Regions from separate parts of the Homo sapiens genome. Here regions 1, 3 and 4 are each linked to region 2. The links come from fine-mapping of genetic effects on gene expression. A gene starts in region 2. Each other region holds a variant in brackets. All regions are shown on one strand. Distances are between the middles of the regions. Region 1 has its middle 52 kb from the start of TMEM170B. Region 2 holds the start of HIVEP1 (HIVEP zinc finger 1). Region 3 overlaps HIVEP1 (HIVEP zinc finger 1). Region 4 has its middle 25 kb from the start of HIVEP1.

Region 1 (5,154 bases), 420 kb after region 2:
AACTACTCGGGAGGCTGAGGCAGGAAAATCGCTTGAACTTGGGAGGCAGAGGTCGCAGTGTGCTGAGATCGTGCCACTGCACTCCAGCCTGGGCTCAAAACAAAAATAGAAAAACTTAGATGTCAAAACCTAGCTCAGGTGTAGTGTGATGGGCCAGAGACCTTTGGGATGGGGACCAGGAAGAACTTTAAAAATATGCTTGCAAGCGCTTCCTGGAAGACCACAGAATCAACTAGGGACATTCCTCCTACTGATGTTGATTTGTTAAAAGAGTATTTATGGAAATTAAACAGAGCCAAATAGGATTATAACTCAGAGCTTTCCATGGTCTTCAATATACACGTGGGAATTGTGAATCTCTAAGACAGGAATACAGAAGGCAAGTTTTATCCAGCTTATTTGAATTCCTTGGCCAGGGAATTCTTTCTCTTAAGAGCCTCTCCCGGGTGCCGGGCGTGGAGGCTCACGCCTGTAATCCCAGCACTTTGGGAGGCCGAGGCGGGCAGATCACGAGGTCAGGAGATCGAGACCATCCTTGCTAACACGGTGAAACCCCATCTCTACTAAAAATACAAAAAAAATTAGCCGGGCGTGGCGGCGGGCCCCTGTAGTCCCAGCTACTCTAGAGGCTGAGGCAGGAGAATGGCGTGAACCCGGGAGGCGGAGCTTACGGTGAGCGGAGATCGCGCCACTGCACTCCAGCCTGGGCGACAGGTGACAGAGCATGACTCTGTCTCAAAAAAAAAAAAAAAAAAGAGCCTCTCCCAGTTAGTGTTCTTTAGAACAGGGGTCCTCAACCCCCAGGCTGCAGACAGGTACCATTCTGTTACCTGTTAAGAACCAGGCCGCACAGGCCGGGCGTGGTGGCTCACACCTGTAATCCCAGCACTTTGGGAGGCCGAGACGGGCGGATCACGAGGTCAGGAGATCGAGACCATCCTGGCTAACACGGTGAAACCCCATCTCTACTAAAAATACAAAAAATTAGCCGGGCATGGGTGGTGGGCGCCTGTAGTCCCAGCTACTCGGGAGGCTGAGGCAGGAGAATGGCCTGAACCCGGGAGGTGGAGCTTGCAGTGAGCAGAGATGGCGCCACCGCACTCCAGCCTGGGCGACAGAGCGAGACTCCGTCTCAAAAAAAAAAAAAAAAAAAAAAAAAGAACGAGGCCGCACAGCAGGAGGTGAATGGCGGGCCAGCGAGCGCTACACCCTGAGCTCCACTTCATGTCAGATTAGTGGCGGCATTAGAGTCTCGCAGGAGAGCGCAAGCCCTGTTGTGAACTGCGGATGCGAGGGATCTAGACTGTGTGCTCCTTGTAAGAATCTAATGCCTGATGATCTGAGATGGAAGAGTTTCATCTTGAAACCACACCCCACTCGGTGGAAAAATTGTCTTCCACAAAACCAGTTCCTCCTGCCAAAAACGTTGGGGACCGCTGCTTTAGAACACTCTTAATAAATGCTATTTACATTTAGTCTGACCCATTTGTCATTGTGGCTAACAAAGTGGGAAGATTGGAAAATTTGAGAGAGAGGAGAGAGAGAGATCAGGCTTTATTTTACCAAATTTATTACTGTATTAAAAGCTAGAATTTTTGATAGTTTTGAACAAAAGCTGTTACGAATACCAGACTGGATTAGTAACAGCCAAGATAATCATAGGATTCTTTGAGATGTGCATCATAAAACTGGAATCCTACCAAATGATCTGAGGCATTTCTCAAGTTGATGTCTGATACTTTCCAGAATTAAAAATGCTGAATGGATATGTAAGAATAAACCAATTCTTAGTTATTTTCAGCCTGATCGTCCTCATTTTCTCTTATGAAAAAGCCCTGCTTTCATGACAGAACCTATTTCAAGGGCTTATTTTGTTAACTTTTGGGACAGTTCTTTAAAGAAACACACACACACACACATTATCTACATTATTCCTGTCTTAATTCTCCACCTACACCACATGTGAAGAAATCCTTTGACACTTGACCACCTCTGCCCCCTTCCAGAGATGGTAAAGAC[A/G]AAGTTGCATACATTTCAGATAGAAATGCTTTAAAATAGAAAGTGACGCTTGTAAAGTGATACAAGTTTCAACATCAAACAAAAATTATTTTGGGGATATTTGCCAATTTATCTCTACCTCTTGTCTCTTCCATTGTGAAGGTGACATAAGGTTGAGCTAGTCTTTATTTATGGACATGATTTTAATCTAACTTTTGGTTCAATCTTTTCAAATAGTTTCCCCAATACAGTCTCTAACATCACACAAACAGATTCCTGATGTCATGAGTAGGGGTGTTTTGACCTAATCCTGATTCGGAGGTTAATCAGCACACTGTTCATTTTTCCCATCACAACCAACAAAACTACTCCGGATATACTTCAGACTCCAGTCTACAGCAGTCTCGAAAACACAGCTTCCCATATCAATAATCCCAAAAGTACTGTTTTCTTTCATCCTTTTTGAACTCAAAATGTCCAGCGGGCCTTCATATTTTGCTTTGATTTGGCAACTTTTCCTGTCCAGATAATTGGTGGTGTGCATTGAACTAGTTAAGGTGGAACAAGAGTCTGAGAAGCATGCTGCTTTATTTGTGACAGAAATAGTCTGCTTAGTTAAAGTAAAAGTTGAAAAATATTAATGAAGCATTGTGGCAGTTGTATCCTATCAGCATTCGAGTGACCTGGGTGTGTAACTCTTATGACTGAAGAGCTCCCTCACAAGGTATTCCTGATGGAAGCAAACGGGACTTAACCCCTCAATAAGATCTCAAGTGAACATTTGGGCCTTTGTACGTCCTGTCTCTTAAAAGTCATAAGCCAAAGCCTTGTGGCAGGAAAATGAGCTAGTCATGGGTTACCCAGGAAGTGACCAGTTTCCAAGGGGATCCCTTTGGGCCTCTAGGGATTACCTGAGTCCAGGCAATTAGGCTGCTATGGCCACCTCTGTTCTGCTCTTCACATGCACATCTGTTCAAACAGCTGTCCAGGTCCCATAAGAGACCTTTGTTTAACCAAGTAAATGGCTTTCTTCATTTATTAAAAGCATTTTACCTTTCCCTCAAATAAGAACAGATTGTGAGGACAAAATGACATTATAGATGTGAAAATGGTTTGAGAGTAAAAGTTGAATTCCAACATTATTACAATGATGACCCTATCAGTAATATAGGCTTTACATATATCCTCCAGGCACTTGTAAAAAATGAAAAACAGGCCAGGCACAGTGGCCCATGCCTGTAATCCCAGCACTTTGGGAGGCCGAGGCAGGTGGATCACCTGAGGTCAGGAGTTTGAGACCAGCCTGGCCAACACGGTGAAACCCCATCTCTACTAAAAACACAAAAATTGGCCAGGCATGGTGGTGGGCACCTGTAATCCCAGCTACTTGGGAGGCTGAGGCAGGAGAATCACTTGAACCTGGGAGGCAGAGGTTGCAGTGAGCCAAGATCGCGCCATTGCATTCCAGCCTGGGCAACAAGAGCGAAACTCTGTCTTAAAAAAAAAAAAGCCAGAAGTTATGTGAAAAGCTGAATTTAGATCAAGACACTGTGTGTGTATATATTCTTGCATGTGCATATATGAACACATATGTTTGTGTATGATGTTGGCCAAGACATGTAACCTGTATGCCTCAGTTTCTGGATCAGCAAAATTGGAATAATACCTCTGCCTTGTTGAATTGCAAAAAAGGGAAAAAAAACAGAAGTTAGAGTTTAGATTTGAAATTTTCTTCCCTTCTCATTCACCTTGCAAAAAATCCTCCAAGTTAAACAAGTTTCAAATGAATCTGGACGTAGACTAAGGCTCAGAACTACATGGACATGTTAAGTGTCAAACGCTTGGAGCCAAACTGGTCCTGGCCTAGGAAAGTCTGAGAATAACAGGTCTATACTGATGCTGTCCTGTTAAAAGTTTCAACTTGCATTTACGAGAAAGCAAAAAGAGTTGATGTGTTTTCAGGTTTACTGAAGAAGAAATTGGCATAGAGAGATTAAGTCTAATGTGAGGTCTCATGGGCACAAAGGGTCAGAACCTGGGAGAAGACCCAGGTCTCATATCATCCCCTCTCAGGTAACATGCACAGGGCTTTCAAAAGTCACGAGTCTCAAGAAATAGAAATGCTTTTACGCTATTGATGGGAATGTAAATTAGTTCCACCATTGTGGAAGACAGTGTGGTGATTCCTCAAGGATCTAGAACCAGAAATACCATTTGACCCAGCAATCCCAATACTGGGTATATATCCAAAGAAATATAAATCATTCTACTATAAAGACACATGCACATATGTTTACTGCAGCACTATTTACAATAGCAAAGACATGGAACCAACCCAAATGCCCATCAATGATAGACTGGATAAAGAAAATGTGGTACATATACACCATGGAATACTATGCAGCCATAAAAAGGAATGAGATCATGTCCTTTGCAGGGACATGATGAAGCTGGAAGCCATCACCCACAGCAAAGTAACACAGGAACAGAAACCCAAACACCACATGTTCTCACTCATAAGTGGGAGTTGAATAATGAGAACACATGGACACAGGGAGGGGAACGACATACACCAGGACCTGCTGGTGGGTGGGGGGCAAGGGAAGGGAATCTAGAGGATGAATAAATAGGTGCAGCAAACCACCATGGCACACGTATACCTATGTAACAAACATGCACGTTCTGCACATGTATCCCGGAACTTAAAGAAAAAAAAAAGTCATGAGTCTCTCAAAATTGTAGTTTCCTCAACCCTACATCTCCCACTCATCTCTGTACCTTCTCCTATTTTCCACATCAAAGATAGCACAAGCATCTTCTTTTAACACATTTTGGAGTCACCCACCAACACCAATTCCCACGAAAAGTAAGCCAAGTGTAGTTTTATGAAAATCTGTTTGGTCCTCTTTTTTTTTTCTTTTTTGGCAACAGAGTCTCACTCTGTTGCCCAGGCTGGAGTGCAGTGGTACCATCTCGGCTTACTGCAACTTCCATCTCCCGGGTTCAAGCGATTCTCCTTCCTCAGCCTCCCAAGTAGCTGGGATTACATGTGCCCGCCAACATGCCCGGCTAATTTTTTTGTATTTTTAATAGAGAGGGTGTCTCACCATGTTGGCCAAGCTGGTCTCGACCTCCTGACCTCAAGTGATCCGCCTG
Region 2 (5,154 bases):
TCTACACATTCCCTAATTTAATCTGTTAACTAAGAAGGTAGCTATCATTTATTCATTTTACAGATTAAAAAAAAATTGGATAAGTAACTTGTCCAAGATAAACAACTAAAGAATGTGGTACTGCATGACTCAGTTATATCCAGTGCTTATTTTGTGGAGCTGATAACATCTACTTTCAGGATTTCTTTCAAGAGGCGCAGCAAGTCATGACGACTTATCTTGGTGTCAAACCGGAGTGGGTTCAAAGCCAGGCTTTACCCCTTACTGTGTGGCCTTGTTCAGGTTACTTAACCTCTCTGAAGATCAGATTTCCCAACTGTAAAATTAGGAAATATTATCCACATCAGAAGGTTGTTATAAGGACTAAACTAAACATTGTAGACGCTTTGCCTGTCACACAAAAACGCTGAACTATTAATTCTCCTTAAGAAAGCCTATATGGGAAGGAATGTGTCTAACATCCCAGTATAAGGTTTTAGAAATTTATGGTTTCATTACAGCAAAGAAACAGAAGGTAAAGAAGGCCACGATTAACTTCAGTATTTTATCCCTGATCTGGCTGTATGTCAGCTCAGCACAAAATTATTTGCAATTTTTAACTACATGGTAAAATAATACAAAAAAAAATGATGGTCTAAGTATTTCATCTAGCATTGTGCTAAGTGATCTATAAAAGATAGGGTTTCTCAGCTCCTTGCTCTAAAGAAACATCCACTATCTAATTCAGGAAGGTTCTGATTCAATAAAGAATTGAGACACAGCTGAACCAAATAAATTGCATGAATGCTTAACTACGTTCGTTGTTAAACTTAAAGCTTTTAAATGGTAACGATATTTGGAAGTTTTTAAAGCGTGAACTCTGACTGTAATCCAATCATGTGATCCCATGGGATCCGGAGCATAAATGTAAAATATGCACATTCCCTGTCCGTAAAGGCTTTCTGCTACCCCGTTCATTGCCTACCCACTGTCCCTAGCTGTCCATCCCATATTTAAATCCTTGTGGGGGGAAGTGGGTATTTCCAAAGACAGCAGCATTGTAGCGACTAGGACGAGTGATAAACCGTTCCTTTACGGGAAAGAAATAAATACTACATGGAGCAAAAACATGACACGATCAAAAAGCGTAAAGACAGTTGCAAGGAGAAAAAACATGAATGAATGTGGAGGGCGGAGCCTGGGAAAACCCCTCTGCAACGCTGCACTGAACAAAGCGCTTCGCATGCCAGGAGGAGGGGGGGAATGGAAGTGCCAGCTCAGGAAGGAGCCTGGAGTGGATGCAGAGAGCTGAGGAGGAGGAGGACGAGATGAGGCGAGCGCGGCAGCCCTGAGACTCCTCCTCGCCGCCTGCTCCGCCGCCGCCCCCTCCCCTCTCCAGCCAGCAACTCCTTCCCGAGCCCGACCCCAAGGCGAGCCCGAGCCGACCCGCACCCCAACCCACCGCCCCCTTCCCAACTGCAGCTGGCGCGCACTCCCAACCCGGAAAGAAACTACCCAGGTGGCCGGGAGTAAACAGGCACTTAGAGCAAAGAACGAAAGGGAAAGAAACCCACAAAGCCGGGAGGTTGGGATGCCGAGGCCTGGTCTCTTTCACCCCCCACCCTCTTGCAAAATGCGTCTGCGGCTGGAAGGCGGCTGGGGAGGCTGGGTCCCTCTGTACCTGCTCGGCTCGCGCGCGGCGAGGGCGCCCAGAAGTGCCAAGGGTCTCCCGCACGCAGCCATCCCCTCTGCAAGGTCGGCGGTTGCACACACACGCACACACACACACACACGCGCGCCCGCACGCCCCCCGCCCGCCGAAGGGATGTGCTCCTGCCCCCCCCCCCCTCCGCCCCGCCGCCCTCCCCAGCTGCAGCGCCCCCGCCGCGGAGCCCGCGCCGAACCTGCTGCCAGGACGCCCGGCGGAGCCGCTGCCGCTGCAGCCGGCCCTGGAGCTGCGCTGCTGATGGCGGCGGCCGCGGCTCGGGATCTCCGCGACCCCCGCGCGGCGGCGGCGGCGGCGCCTGGGATCCCTCCTTCACTTGACAACCCCAAACACAAACATAACCTCCTCCGGCGGCCGCCGCTCCCCGGTCCCCCGCTCCGTCCGCCACCCTGCCGCCGCCCAGCAGCCGCCACGCTGAAGGCCGGCGACTGGCGCTCACACCACCCAGCACTGAAATATTAAACAGGGGAGCGGGCCGGGGGGCGGGGGGGGGAGCGCGGGGCGCGCGGGCGGGGGCCGCAGCCGCCGGGCGGAGGAGGCGGCGAAGCTCGCCGGCGCCCGGAGCCACGGCATGATCGCGGCCGCCAGGGAGCCGGGCAGCCGGGCTGGGGGGCGCGCGCCGCGGCGGGGCGGGCGGACAGACCCTGGGGCCGCGGGGCCCGGGGCGGGAAGGACGGGCGCGGGCTTTACCTCTCCCCCGGGGCAGAGTAGGGCACGTTTAGCGTCTTTGGGGCCGGCGGGAGGAACGCGGGCCGGGCGGCGCGGGGGAGGCAGGGCGAAGGTCGGAGGCTTTCCCGCGGGTGGGCGGGGCGGCAGGGGATCCCCGGGGGCGGGAGGAGGGGAGGCCGCGGGCGGCGACGCGTGGGCGGGGGAGGGGGCGTCCCCGCGGGGGCTGGGGTTGAGGCCGGGGCGAGGGGCGCGGGACGCCCAGGCGCCGGGGCCCAGCTGGGCCGGCGCGGCCGCCAGCTCTGACCGGGTGTAGGGACTGGATGGGCGCCCGGCCCGGCACGAACCCGGAGCCAGTGCCCCGGGTCTCCCCGGCGGGGCGGGCCCCAGACCGCGCCGGCCCCGCCACCTACCCGCCGCTTCGCCCCTCCCCGCCCCGCCCGGCCGAGCCGCCGCAGGGACGGGAGGGGGACGCGGGAGGAGGTGGCAGCGCAGCCCGGGGGGGAGGGGCGGGGTTAGGGACGCGGGGGGCGGGAGCCCTGGGTCGCGACGCCTGGGGAACCAGCACACGGCGGGGGCGGAGGGGCGGGCCCGGCCAGTCACGCGGCCCCGGGAAGGCCTGGCGGGGTCGCTCAGTTGGGGGCGGTTGGTCCGGGAAGAGGGACGGGACGGGCGGGGCCGTAGTTTCTCTTTACCGTCTCTTTACTTTCTACAGCAGGATGTGGGCCGGCCGCTGACGTCATGGGGTCTCCCGGCCCCGCCCCTCGCCCGGGCAGAATGGGGGAGGGGGAGGCGGGGGGGGGGGGGGACCCCAAGGGGGTTTCCTCAGCAACGCGTAGAAGGAAGGGGAAAGTCATTGTGAAACTTAAAACTCATTAACTTTGAAAAACAACTTTTAAAAAAACGGAGGGGGCAGGGTGTTGGTTTGGAGAGTGGAAGGGGACATGTTAACCCTGAACTGAAACCACTTTTTGGTGGCGGATGTTCTATTAAAAGAGCGAGGAAAGCCAAGGTTATTCCAGAGGCCGCTCCAAAGCCCCGCTGGTGCTTCCCAGTGCCGAAGCTGCGAGCGCAATTAACCCCTGCCTGCCAGCCTGACAGCTTATAGGGCCAACCCGGGAGGGGACTTCGGGGACAGAAAAGGGGGGTGCGGGGCTGGTCGTCGGACCGGGCTCCAGGGAAGAGGGGAGAGCGTGAAAGGGGAAGAGGGAGTAATTAGCATGAACCAAGGTGTGACCCCGGCTGCTAGAAAGCAGTAGAGAAAGCAAGGAGTGGAAATCCATGGCAAAGCAGTGAAGAGGGGCTGGACCAGGGTAACGAAGGTTTTCAGGGTTAGACCTAAAGAACGTTCGCAGTTTGGGGCACAGAAATTCCACAGGTCCACCTCAAGAAGCAAAAGTGGCTGGTTTAACGGGCCACCTCAAACTTGAGAGGAATAAGGTGAAACAAAATTGATGCAAAAAAAAAAAAATCCCTGATGAAACTAAACTGGTTTCCCCTTTTAAGGAATAAAAATGCTAAACGACCATACAACCACTAAGACAGCTGGCCATCTGTGCAAACTTGAATTGTTTTGTTCCCTTGGGCTTCCATAACGACGTCTAGGTTTTTCCTGCTGGAGTTGACCCCTAAAATTCCCCTGAGGAAATCGTACCTCTGGCTCATTTGAGCTAAGAAAAGCTCAAACCACCAGAATGGGAATGATTAAAAATGGAATACTCAGTAATGGCGAGTGTGTAGCCAAAAATAATATCATGTAAAGGGAGAAATATGCCTACTACAAAGTAAATTTGGTTATAAAAGCAAAGATCATCCAACTGTGTACATGTACAATTATGTCTAGCATACTAATGCTAACCCTACGATGAAATAATGCAATTTTTATTTTCATTGTGCTATAACCATCTCTCATTTGTGAAATGAAATGATATCCAATAGGTTGCAATCACCAAAAAAGTATATAATGTAACTTCCCAACTGGGTTATTTGAATCCAAAAGTAAACATGCATTTAACTGTGAACGTATAGCTATTAATCTGTCAGGAGAAAGGTAATGTGATAATGAGTGAAGTTTGTATCACTTTGGAAGTGAAAAATGCTAACTGAATGAATAACGTTTAACCCAATAATTGTTGAGCACAACATACTGTCAACACAATGTTTATGTAGGATTCAGCATTACTACGAACTTTCTAACAAAACATACATGCAATTTCGAATTACGATAGGTAAATTTTGACATTTCAACTATTTCCTTGAGCAGCAAACCGATATTAAACTTTTATTTGAAATATATACAATACAGAATAGTTTCCTAGTAAGTTTTTGAATTTTCTAAATGCAGTTTCTTTTCCTAATTCTGCCTACAATTCTTCCCAGATATCAGGATGCAGGGAAACCTGGCTATACTATAAAGTAGCTTCTTTAGGCTTGTTTTGTGGCAAATCCAATATATTTTCTCAAAATGTATCAAATAAACACAGCGTGGGAAAAAAATGAAGCAGAGGGTGAATGTGGAGGATGAATGTGAATGGTAAACTGCAGTTTCAACTGTCAAAAATCCTGGGACAATGCAGGAGCAAGTGACCATTCTCTGCCCCCAAAAAAGAGGGGGCTCCTGGAGGTCCATTTCTCTATGGTTCCATCCCCACCGTCCGCGTGAACGCTTCTGGAGCCCCCCTTGGGGAAAGTGGGGTTCGAGGGAGGATAGTGTCACTGAAAAGCTCAACACACGTTTTTCTTGGCGAACAGTTTGGAGAGGGCACAAAGTCCACCCCGGAGCC
Region 3 (5,154 bases), 40 kb before region 2:
CAACATCAAATAATATGCTATGTCATGAAATCATGTATGTTAATCAGAAAAGTGAAAAAAGAGGTTCCACGATAACCAAATAAAATGGAAACAAACTAATAACAGCAAAAAAAGTTCATTATGGTGAAGTCATGTGATACAATATTATGCAGTCATTTGAAACTGATGTTTATAGGGAATTTTAATGACACCGAAAAATACTAGTAATAGATAATATTAAGGGGAGCATCCCAAAAGATATACTGTATGATGCCAACTGTGCTTTAAAATTCATGTGTAGTTATATATTCATATGTATATGTGTGTAAATGTGCATGTATATATAGTCTAGATACATATGTAGGTATATGCATATATATCCATATGTATACATATAAATGAAAGATATCAAATTGTTAATAGTAGTTATTTCTGGATGGTACAGTTATGAGTGACTATAACTTCTGTATGTGGATCTTCCAAATTTTCTGAAACAAACATATAGTGTATGTTTTCTTGTAAATATACCTATAGACTATATACTGTTTTTCATACCATAGTTTCCACAGCATAAACCTTGGTATCAATCCAATTATTTGCAGAGTCATCAGGCAAATGAGTGAATCAAATGTAATAATCCCAAATATCTTGAGTTGGCATCACAATTGACAGATTAAAGTAAATAAACACAGAGTGGGCATGTTTTATATGTTGCTGAGAGTTATGGGCAATGCGAGCCTGAAAGCTATTAGCTTTCAAATATGACAGACTATTTGAAATGGAGAAGGGAAAGATAACCTACGTTTCTGATACTAACAAGTTGTAGCTCACATTTCCACATGGAGAAGGATCAAATGTACGTTCCCTTTCTGTTATCCTATTTGTCATATTCTTTATTGAAAAAAATAATGACCTTAAGTAAAAGATACGTTATGTACCAAGATGTTCATCCTATTTATTCTGGAAAAGGGCTGAAAGCCACCATATAACAGAGCTTGGCAGATTTATCTCTAGGGTTCTCTTGTCAATTTCTGTTTTGTGGGGGAAGGGGTTTGCTATGATTGAGAAAGGAAAATTAATGTTTTCTTTTCTCTCCAAATATATCCTAGCTTAAGCAGTACACAGCCCCCAACAGAGCATCCCCCTATCCCACCTCCACTTTGGTTTCAGTCAAGACATGGAATCAATTCTGCCCTTACCTAGGGCTATGGACTCAGAACTCCCCCACACCATCTCCACAGGGCCTCAGAATATTTCTATTAGTCTTTTGCCCCTTAAGACTCACAGGTACCTATTTATGTTTTTTTTGTCATATCCTAAAATTTTAGTTAATTTATAATTAATGGTGTTTTCTTATAATAATTTTCCATGGCTTATAATACATTTCTATACTGCTTCTCTTATTTGTATCCTTGGTAAACTTTATCTTCTAACTTGACTAGAAAAAAATCCCACTCTTCTTTTAAACAAACCACAAATTGACAGTCAGGACATCTCAATGTTTAAAGAACAGCAAATAAAATTTGGCTATATATGCCACAAAATATCCCTACACACACACAGACACACACACACACATGAACAGCATATTGGGAAATATTTATAATAATTTTATACCTTGTCTACTGCAAATCTTTATAATGAACACCATATACTATGGACATGTGTTATATTTTCCCCAAAACAGATGTAAATTAAAGCAGCTGCTCAGAAAGTCTTCCGATCTTGAAGAAAATTATAGCTGTGAAGTGTAAAGGCAAATACTCCAATTACAGGAACTACACAGCTTTGCAATAATGACAATCAAATTATTTTAAAAACTGTGATGAGAATCCCCGCCCAACCCCAAGAAATTACTTTCTGAGCATTTGCTACAAGTCTCCAAAAGATAGCATTTCCTAACCATTTTAGCCTGCATTTTTAAAGCACAGGAATGATTGTTTTATCAATTAAAATTTCTAGTTTACAGATGGTTACCTAGTCTTAATCTGGTGAAATTAGAACCTCAGACTTCATTTTAAGACAAGAAAAGAAAGTAAATTGTGGTAACAAGGTACACTGGGAACAGTAAGAATTTGTTTTCAGACAAAACTGAGGCTCAATTCCTAGTTTGGCCATTTACTAGGTACATGATACAAGGCAAGAGACTCCAACTCTCCAAGTCTCAGCCTCTTTCATAACAAAAAATTAAATAGTGCTATCTGCCTCATAAGATAGTTTTAATTCCTGAAAGAGATGACTGATGGAACACACCAGACACAGAGTAGATACTCAATGTATGTTAGCTCTTGTACCCTTCTTCACAAATACTACAAAATTTTCCAAACTGACCAAATAACTTTACACACATAAGGTTCGGACACTATTGTAACAGTTTCATGTACTATTGGAGGTATATTTAGAACATTAATTTTTTAAATGATGTTTAAGAAAGTTAAAATGTATTAATAAAAACCCTCAGATATTCCATCATGCTCTACAAAGCTATCTCTAGGTGGCCCTCTAAGTGGCTTACTTTGGGTGGTTCCAGTAAGATGCATTTCATTATTTAGATGTCTCCTTGTTGAGTAAATATAAGGTGAAGTAAAAGAATCAATACATTCATCATCTGCCTGTATACATATGCCGTGGTCTTGATTCCGTAAGAAGACATGTCTTTATTCATCTAAAGCCATGTACAAATGGAAGTAGAATTTCCAAAGACTGCTTTTAAAATTAAAGGCATGTTTCACAAGTTAGCAAAAGCCGTGCAGCCTCTTAGATCTCTGTA[T/C]TGGCTAACCACACACCACGACATGCTATCCTCAGTTGGAAAGTCCCCCCACACAGTATGTAAACTCATTTTGAAACTGGAGAGAACAGTTCCTCCTATAACTCATCTGGGCAAGTTTATATAAAAGAATAATTTTTCAGAAAGCCACAGAGGTTCTCTCCCAAGATTGCTGAAGTATAATTATGGACAAGTGTAAATATGGAAAGAGAAGCTGACTAAAAGTAAAAAGCACAGTGAATAAGCGTTTATAAAGATTTATATAAAAAGAAACAAAAACAAATAAAAACTTCAGCCCACCTAATAAAGTAATTTTAGTAATACCCATTCATGTACCACCCTCCCCACCACCTCCCTTCCCGAGAAACAAAAAAAATGGTTAGACTGCATGTTAACATGTAAAGATACCTGTATCTATTTATATTTTATCTATATATTATATTTAATTAGGGTGAAATAATAAAATGCACTAATTATATAGTATTTACATACATACACTATGTATACACACACATAGTAAAGGCAAAAATGGAAAGATAAAACATAATATTCTTAAATGGTTACTTACTGGAGGGGAGAAGGCAGAGATAGAAGATGGACTTTTTTGACAGTATCTTGTTTTCTAGATGCTACTTTGGAGTCATGTAAATATTTTCTGTGATTGTAAAACAAAAATTTTAAATAAAAACTCCTAAAAATCAAAAATAAAATGTGACAAATGAACCCTGCATTTATAAGGTGGTAGCATAACCACACAGAGAAGAATGACTGACAGTGAAATACATTAATCCTATATCCGTAGTGGGACATAAACTAATGACAAAAGAAAAATGGTGGTATTGGTGCTGGCATTAGTAGTCTGAACTGCTGTGTATATCAAAGCAAGTAAGTAATTCTGCCATTCCAGGAGTACAAGCATTCTCGCTGTGAGAGAAAGGAGACAGAAGTATAAGATCCAAGAGGTGAAGTAAAAACCCTGTCGTCCTGATATTTATTTTAATATACATATATATATATATATATATATATATATATGCACTTGTGTATCTGCTACACACATGCACTCAGCGTCCACTGAACAGGCCTGGAAGCAACGGCCAACCCAGTAGCAATGAGCATGCCTAGCGCCTGGCCTGTGGTTCCCCGATACCATTTCCCACCACTTCTACCTTCATCAATAGAACATTTCAATAGGTGGAGATTAAGACCCCCCAAAAGTAGGAGCAAAGACTTGGAAGCAGGAAAGGCCTACTTAGGATGAGCAAATGGCCCACCAGGCCAAGGGCTAGAAAGCAAGGGCATCTACAGTGAGACTGTCTGGAGGGGCCTGACAGGGCCCGACTGCGAGAGCTAATCTTGAAAGCAAAGAAAGATGTTTATGATTCTTGAGGAGAGGATGGGAGTCGCCCAGCTGGACCCATGGTGTTTAATTTTTTTATTTTTTTTTTTTTGAGACGGAGTCTCTCTCTGTCGCCCAGGCTGGAGTGTAGTGGCGTGATCTCGGCTCACTGCAAGCTCCGCCTCCCGGGTTCACGCCATTCTCCTGCCTCAGCCTCCCGAGTAACTGGGACTACAGGTGCCTGCCACTACGCCCGGCTAGTGTTTTTGAATTTTTAGTAGAGACAGGGTTTCACCGTGTTAGCCAGGATGGTCTCGATCTCCTGACCTCATGATCCGCCCGTCTTGGCCTTCCAAAGTGCTGGGATTACAGGCGTGAGCCAGCGCACCCGGCCGATGGTGTTTAATTTTTACAGTGCCCATGTGTGGCAGGCATGAACTCTCGTTATTCACAGATGAGGATGCTAAGGCTTATCTGGCAAGTAGAGAGCATGTGGAACAGTCCCAATTCTAAACCCAATCGCGGTTTACTAATACAGGCTTGTTTCCACTGGGCTGGCGGAGTAGGTGCCTGGCATTTAGGGCAGTTAATGGTGTCAGTGTAAGAACAAGTTAGAGAGTCATGGACAAAGCTGATCAGATAGGAGGCTTTGTCTTTCTTAGGAGCAACAGGGGCAGACTCTGAGCACCTCCGGATATATATGCTCCAGAGAGCCCATATCATCGCCAGCAACACCCCAGAAAGTGACATTCATTTGGTGAATACCTTGTAATTTTTCATCTTCATTTTAATGTTACAAACCAGTTCATCAAATTCTAACAGTTACATCAAAAAGGAAGAAAAATTTCACAACAAAAATATTCCCTCATTACATAATAAAAATTGTTGAAATCCCAAATAGAGCATACGAGAAAAAGGAAGTTTAATAAAAACTACTCAAGTGTGCCATGAAAGTATAAGCTTATTAGTGGAAATCCACAAATTTGTTTTTAAATAAGTTTGAGTCATCTGTAAATCATCCCTCCATCTTTCTTTCTACATATAAATAGCATTTATTATCTGAGCAAGC
Region 4 (5,154 bases), 24 kb after region 2:
GCAGTGAGCCAAGATGGCGTCATTGCACTCCAGCCTGGGCAACAAGAGCAAAACTTCATCCCCTGCCGGCCAAAAACAATAAAATAAAATAAAATAAATAAATAAATGAAATAGGCTCCATCTCCTTCCACCCCTCAGTGGAGTCTCTTCTTATTCAAACTCTGCCTTTCCTTGACGATCAGATGATGCCCCTTGGCTGAAGCATTGCCTGATCTCACTCTCCTCAGAATTCCTGTGAAATTTTATTCACACTTTCAGTGGTTAAGTGGTTAAATACAAATTCTAATCTTTTGCCATTTATAAAGCACCTAAAACATCATGATGTATTATGTGTAAAAATGTAAAAATGAGTAAAATATGCCAGGTGAAACTTAATTTAAGGAATGCTGGTTGGCAAGAAAAAAGGAAGTACTGATAAATGCTACAAGGTGGACATATTTCAAAAATATTGTGCTCAGTGAAAGAAGCCAAGCATACATGTTGTATGAGCTCATTTATATGAAATGTCCAAAGGAAAAAGGCAGATAATAAGAGACAGAAACTGCATTACTCATTGTCTATGGCTGACGATGGAATGGAGAGTGATGGTGTGAAGTTTCTTCTTAGGATGATGGAAATGTTTTAAAATTGGATTCTGTTGATGGTTGCACAACTCCGTAAATATAGTAAAATTTATTAAATTGTACACTTAACACAGTTGAGTTTTATGATATGTAAATTATATCACAACAAAACAGTTTTTGAAAACATCGGTTTAAGATGATAAAGATAAAATGGGACCCAAATAGATTATTCTCTACTGGTATAATAAAACTTTGAAAGTCATAAACTGTTATATGCCAAGTAGCATTGCTTGAAATATACACATTTAAAAATTAGAAAAATTCACCTTCAGAGAAAATTACGGAATTCATATCTATAGCATGATTCCTTTTTTTAAAAAAAAACCTCAATATTCGTTTGTATGTATCTGTTAAAAGACAACATTAAGTTAATACTTCAGGAGGAAAGAACTGGAGGGGGCTGCCTGGGCAAAGATGTTAAAATTTTCTATCATCTCTTATTTAACTTTTACAATGAGCTTATTACTGTAGTAATTAAAATAAAATCCTCATCAACTCAGTCTTTGAGTTGAGCCAAGCAAAACATCAAGCAGGCAGTAACAGAAACATGAATGTGAAAGATCGAATAGTAAAATTAGTACTGATGGTTAATGGACATGAAGAAAAACTTCGTTCCTTGGAGAGACCTACTTTCCTGGCACCTGCAGAATCACTGATTATTTACATCGGTTATGCACATCGGGCCACCAGCTCTGATCTGTCAGAGAGAAGCCCTGAGCCTGTGAGCCAATGCGCTTTCCCTCCAGCTGCATACCAGATAGGGCATGCCTCAAAAAGATGTCCATCCTGCGGGTGCAAAATAAAAATAAAATAAAACGACGGTTTTTATCATTAGTTTCCAACGTTTTTGAGCAGGCGTTTTTGGAGAGGTCCTATGTTTCCAGAACATCCATTTGAGAACATGCGTTGTGGAATGTGCCCCCTCCAAGGCCAGGTCACTCAGCGGCAGTTACAGCTGGGCAGGCGCCTTTAGGAGGTGGGTGAGATGGCTGACTAGTACCATCAGTTCTATCACACGAGTTACCAATATTTTACCGCCCCTCCGTCCCCCACCGGCTTTGAAGCAAAACGGAACAGCCGGGCACGCACAGGGAGGATGTCTGTGCCGCTGTTGTTCTAGGTTTGTCAGCCGGGGCGGCCAGCAAGGAATCCAGGGGCTGACTTGTCCTGCTCCAAGAAGCAAAAGAGCCCACACCATTGCTGACTGTGGTACTGTGAATTTTGTTATCTTCACTGCCTTCCAGAATGGACCTTTTCTTTGAGAGTGGCCTCAATAAATCATAGTGAAGCTAATGTGATGTTGGTTATGAGTTGTTGTTGTTAAGAATTATGCCACTCTTAAGGCTAGTGAGGAAGAACTAGAGATTAAATTCGGAAACCAGGACCCATCCAGAGAACCCATGACAGCCTATTTCAGAGGAAAATTTTTCAGAGAGAAATTGTAATACACTTCCCAAAGCAGAAGTGGTATAGAAAATTTTTTAAGACCACAATGCTATAAATGCAATCAAAGATTTTAAATTGGAAAAAACACTCCAAAACTGTTCTTTCTTCCCCAAATCCAACTATTTGAAAATATCAAGACATCCTCCTAAATAAGACTT[A/C]AGTCAAAAAAGGAATCAAATATGCTGTTACGGATTTAAACATTATTAATATATTCAGACATCGGCATAAGGAAAACATTTCTTATCAATATAACAAAAGCTATATTCTGAGAAAGAAAATCATTTTAAGATGTTGGTCAAAGGATACAAAGTTTCAATTGGGCAGGATGAATAAACTTGGGAGGTCTAAGTTTACAAATGCCGTGGCAGCATCAGGAAGTTATCCTATATTGTCTGAAAAGGGAAGGCATGAATAATCTGCTGCTTGTTTAGTATATCATCAAGCATTAACCACAAAAATGGGCAACCAGTAGCCCTCAGGACTGCCCTGCCTATGAAGTAGTCATTATTTTATTCCTTTACTTACTTAATAAACATGCCTTCACTTAAAAAAATAAAAGTTTGCGAGATCTAGTATTGTATAGCATGGTGACTATAGTTAATAAAAGTGTATTGTATATTTAAATATTGCTAAGAGAGTAGATCTTTATTCTCACCACAAAAAATAACTATTGGATATATTCAATAGATTGATTTAAACATTTCACAATGTACTTATATATCAAAACATTACTTACATTGTACACCATAAATATAATATATACAATATGTATTTGTCAATTATACCTTAACCAAAAAAAAAAAAAACCTAGTGTTTAACTCAAGAAGCTGATATCACATGAAAATAAATCTAAGAAAAGGAAGAGGAAATAATTATTAGGTGTAAAAGTGTAATAATAAATTAGAAGGATAGAAAAAGTGATAAATACAAAAGACTATTACTTACACAGTCCAATAAAATTAATAAATATTTACCAAGGGCCGGGGATGGTGGCTCATGCCTGTAATCCCAGCACTTTGGGAGGCAAGGTGGGCGGATCACGAGGTTAAGAGATTGAGACCATCCTGGCCAACATGGAGAAACCCTGTCTCTACTAAAAACACAAAAATTAGCTGGGTGTGGTGGTACATGCCTGTAGTCCCAGCTACTCAGGAGGCTGAGGAAGGAGAATCACTTGAACCCCAGAGGCGGAGGTTGCAGTGAGCCGAGATCACGCCACCGCACTCCGGCCTGGCGACAGAGTGAGACTCCGTCTCAAAAAAAAAAAAAAAAAAAAAATCTACCAAGTTTGATTAAGAAAACCAAAACGAAACCATAAAGACCTAAAATTAGGAACGATAATGTTGAACCACAGATTAAAAGGAAATTTAATAGGAATGTAGAAGACAGTATTCTCTCAGTTTTTTTTTCTGAAATGATGTTGATGTATCCTAAGGGATGATCTATGCCAGAATGGTATGCAAATAAAATATTGGGACACTTATTTTTATGTTGTTATTATTTTAAAAATGGAAAATAATCTGTCCAGATACTGCAACTACTGTTTCACAGTGGACCCCTGCTCAGTTCCTAGGTCAGGCCTGTGTTCTCCTTGGTAGAGGAGGGAAGGGGAGGGTTTCACTATCCTAAGGAGTTGGTGTTTATGCTTTTGGTTCTTTAGTTTGTTGGGACACATATACTTAGCTAAATAGAGTGCAGAATAAATTATTTAAAATAATAGAATGTTTAAAATTAGGCAGGCATGGTGGCACACACCTGTAATCCTAGCTACCTGGGAAGCTGAGGCAGGAGAATTGCTTGAAGCCAGGAGGCAGAGGTTGCAGTGAGCCAAGATCACACCACTGCACTCCAGCCTGGGCCACAGAGCGAGACTCCATCTCAAAAAAAAAAAAAAAAAAAAAAAAAAAAGAATGAAAGAAAGAAAAAGAATGTTTACAATTTCCTGAAATGAGATGAGGAATTATCATGAATACATGAATATATTTTCCATGGAGATTCCCTAGCTGTGTTTTGTCAAACTATTTAAAAGAATGTTTTTCCCCCTGGACAAATGATCTTCAAACTGGGCTAAATAGAGACTCTAAAAAGGTATACAATGTGGGTAGTTTAAAGGTCTCAATATACACGGCACAACTTTGGTATATACTCTTCCCTTCTATAAAGTGGGCTCTCTTTTTCCTTAGCTCATCTTTCAAAGTAAAACTTTTCCCATTTTAAAAAAGAAAGTTGAATTTGTCAGGATGTTGTGGGAAACCATCCACTCCAGAATGTCACTGTTTCTCTTTACAATGCATTCCCTTGGCCCCACAGAGCCTGGCAGACAGAGAGCCTGGAAAGGTTCAGTGAACAGCATCACTGATCATCATGAAAGATTTACCTCTCACCGCTCCGAGATTTTACCATAGTGGTATCTGGCCCCTTAATGTGAGGTGCCGCCAGAGAACCAAACCAAGGGACTTCTGAAAATATTGTTTTCTTGGAGCCTTCCTTTTATAATTAATCCACGGATCAATAAAAGTCCACAAGTTTTCTAGTATTTCACTCTCTTCTACATATTTCTTTTTAAAGATATAGAGGTGTATTGGAAGCAGAGTCTTTTGCCCTTGGTGGATCATCCTGAAACCTGACATTTCCGAGAGGGGAAGGAATGACAGTTATCTTTTACCACCTCTTCTTTTACTTCTCAAAAGGATTGGCAAAAAGTGCATTGCTCTCCAAGGGAGAGTTTGCACCCGCAAAGCAAAGGGAGCATTGGTAAAACACACTGATGCCAAAAATGACTGTCTTTTTTTCTCATTTAAATGTAAGCAGTTTTCTTCAGCTACTTTCAATTCTCCTCCCAAGGATGTGACATTGACTGGGAAGAAAAACATCTTCAAGGAACAAGCAGTGGAGATTGGTGATACCATTTGCTTTAAAAGTAACTGGGGTCCAAATGTTTCAAATGATAGCAATTTTTTTTTTAGATTTGGAATGTATTATTCAATTATTGGTTAACATATATTTTATCAAGTCAGATCTTAAAAATATCTTGTTCATTTTCTAAATTGTTTACATTTTCCACCTATTATTAAATATTTTATGT

The links. PIP is the estimated chance that this variant, and not a neighbour inherited with it, causes the effect. A credible set is the group of variants that fine-mapping cannot tell apart.
Region 1: its variant is the best candidate, but not a certain one, in a credible set for the expression of HIVEP1 in whole blood (TOPMed, PIP 0.58).
Region 3: its variant is the best candidate, but not a certain one, in a credible set for the expression of HIVEP1 in monocytes (TOPMed, PIP 0.62).
Region 4: its variant is the best candidate, but not a certain one, in a credible set for the expression of HIVEP1 in whole blood (INTERVAL, PIP 0.65).

What each region holds. Positions count from the first base shown.
Region 1 is chr6:11,587,062-11,592,215 of GRCh38, reverse strand. No RefSeq gene overlaps it. Among named protein-coding and RNA genes, the nearest start is that of TMEM170B, 52 kb to the right of the region's middle. The variant A/G (reference allele first, on the strand shown) is at 2,020.
Region 2 is chr6:12,009,296-12,014,449 of GRCh38, reverse strand. It overlaps HIVEP1 (HIVEP zinc finger 1), which reads right to left and starts at 2,138. Exons shown (of 9, transcript NM_002114.4): 1 at 1,884-2,138. RefSeq lists silencers at 1,984-2,123, 2,304-3,213 and an enhancer at 3,543-4,087.
Region 3 is chr6:12,049,629-12,054,782 of GRCh38, reverse strand. The region is part of intron 2 of HIVEP1 (HIVEP zinc finger 1); the gene reads right to left. Among named protein-coding and RNA genes, the nearest start is that of HIVEP1, 40 kb to the right of the region's middle. RefSeq lists enhancers at 2,508-2,587, 2,608-2,657, 2,688-2,957. The variant T/C (reference allele first, on the strand shown) is at 2,750.
Region 4 is chr6:11,984,922-11,990,075 of GRCh38, reverse strand. No RefSeq gene overlaps it. Among named protein-coding and RNA genes, the nearest start is that of HIVEP1, 25 kb to the left of the region's middle. The variant A/C (reference allele first, on the strand shown) is at 2,228.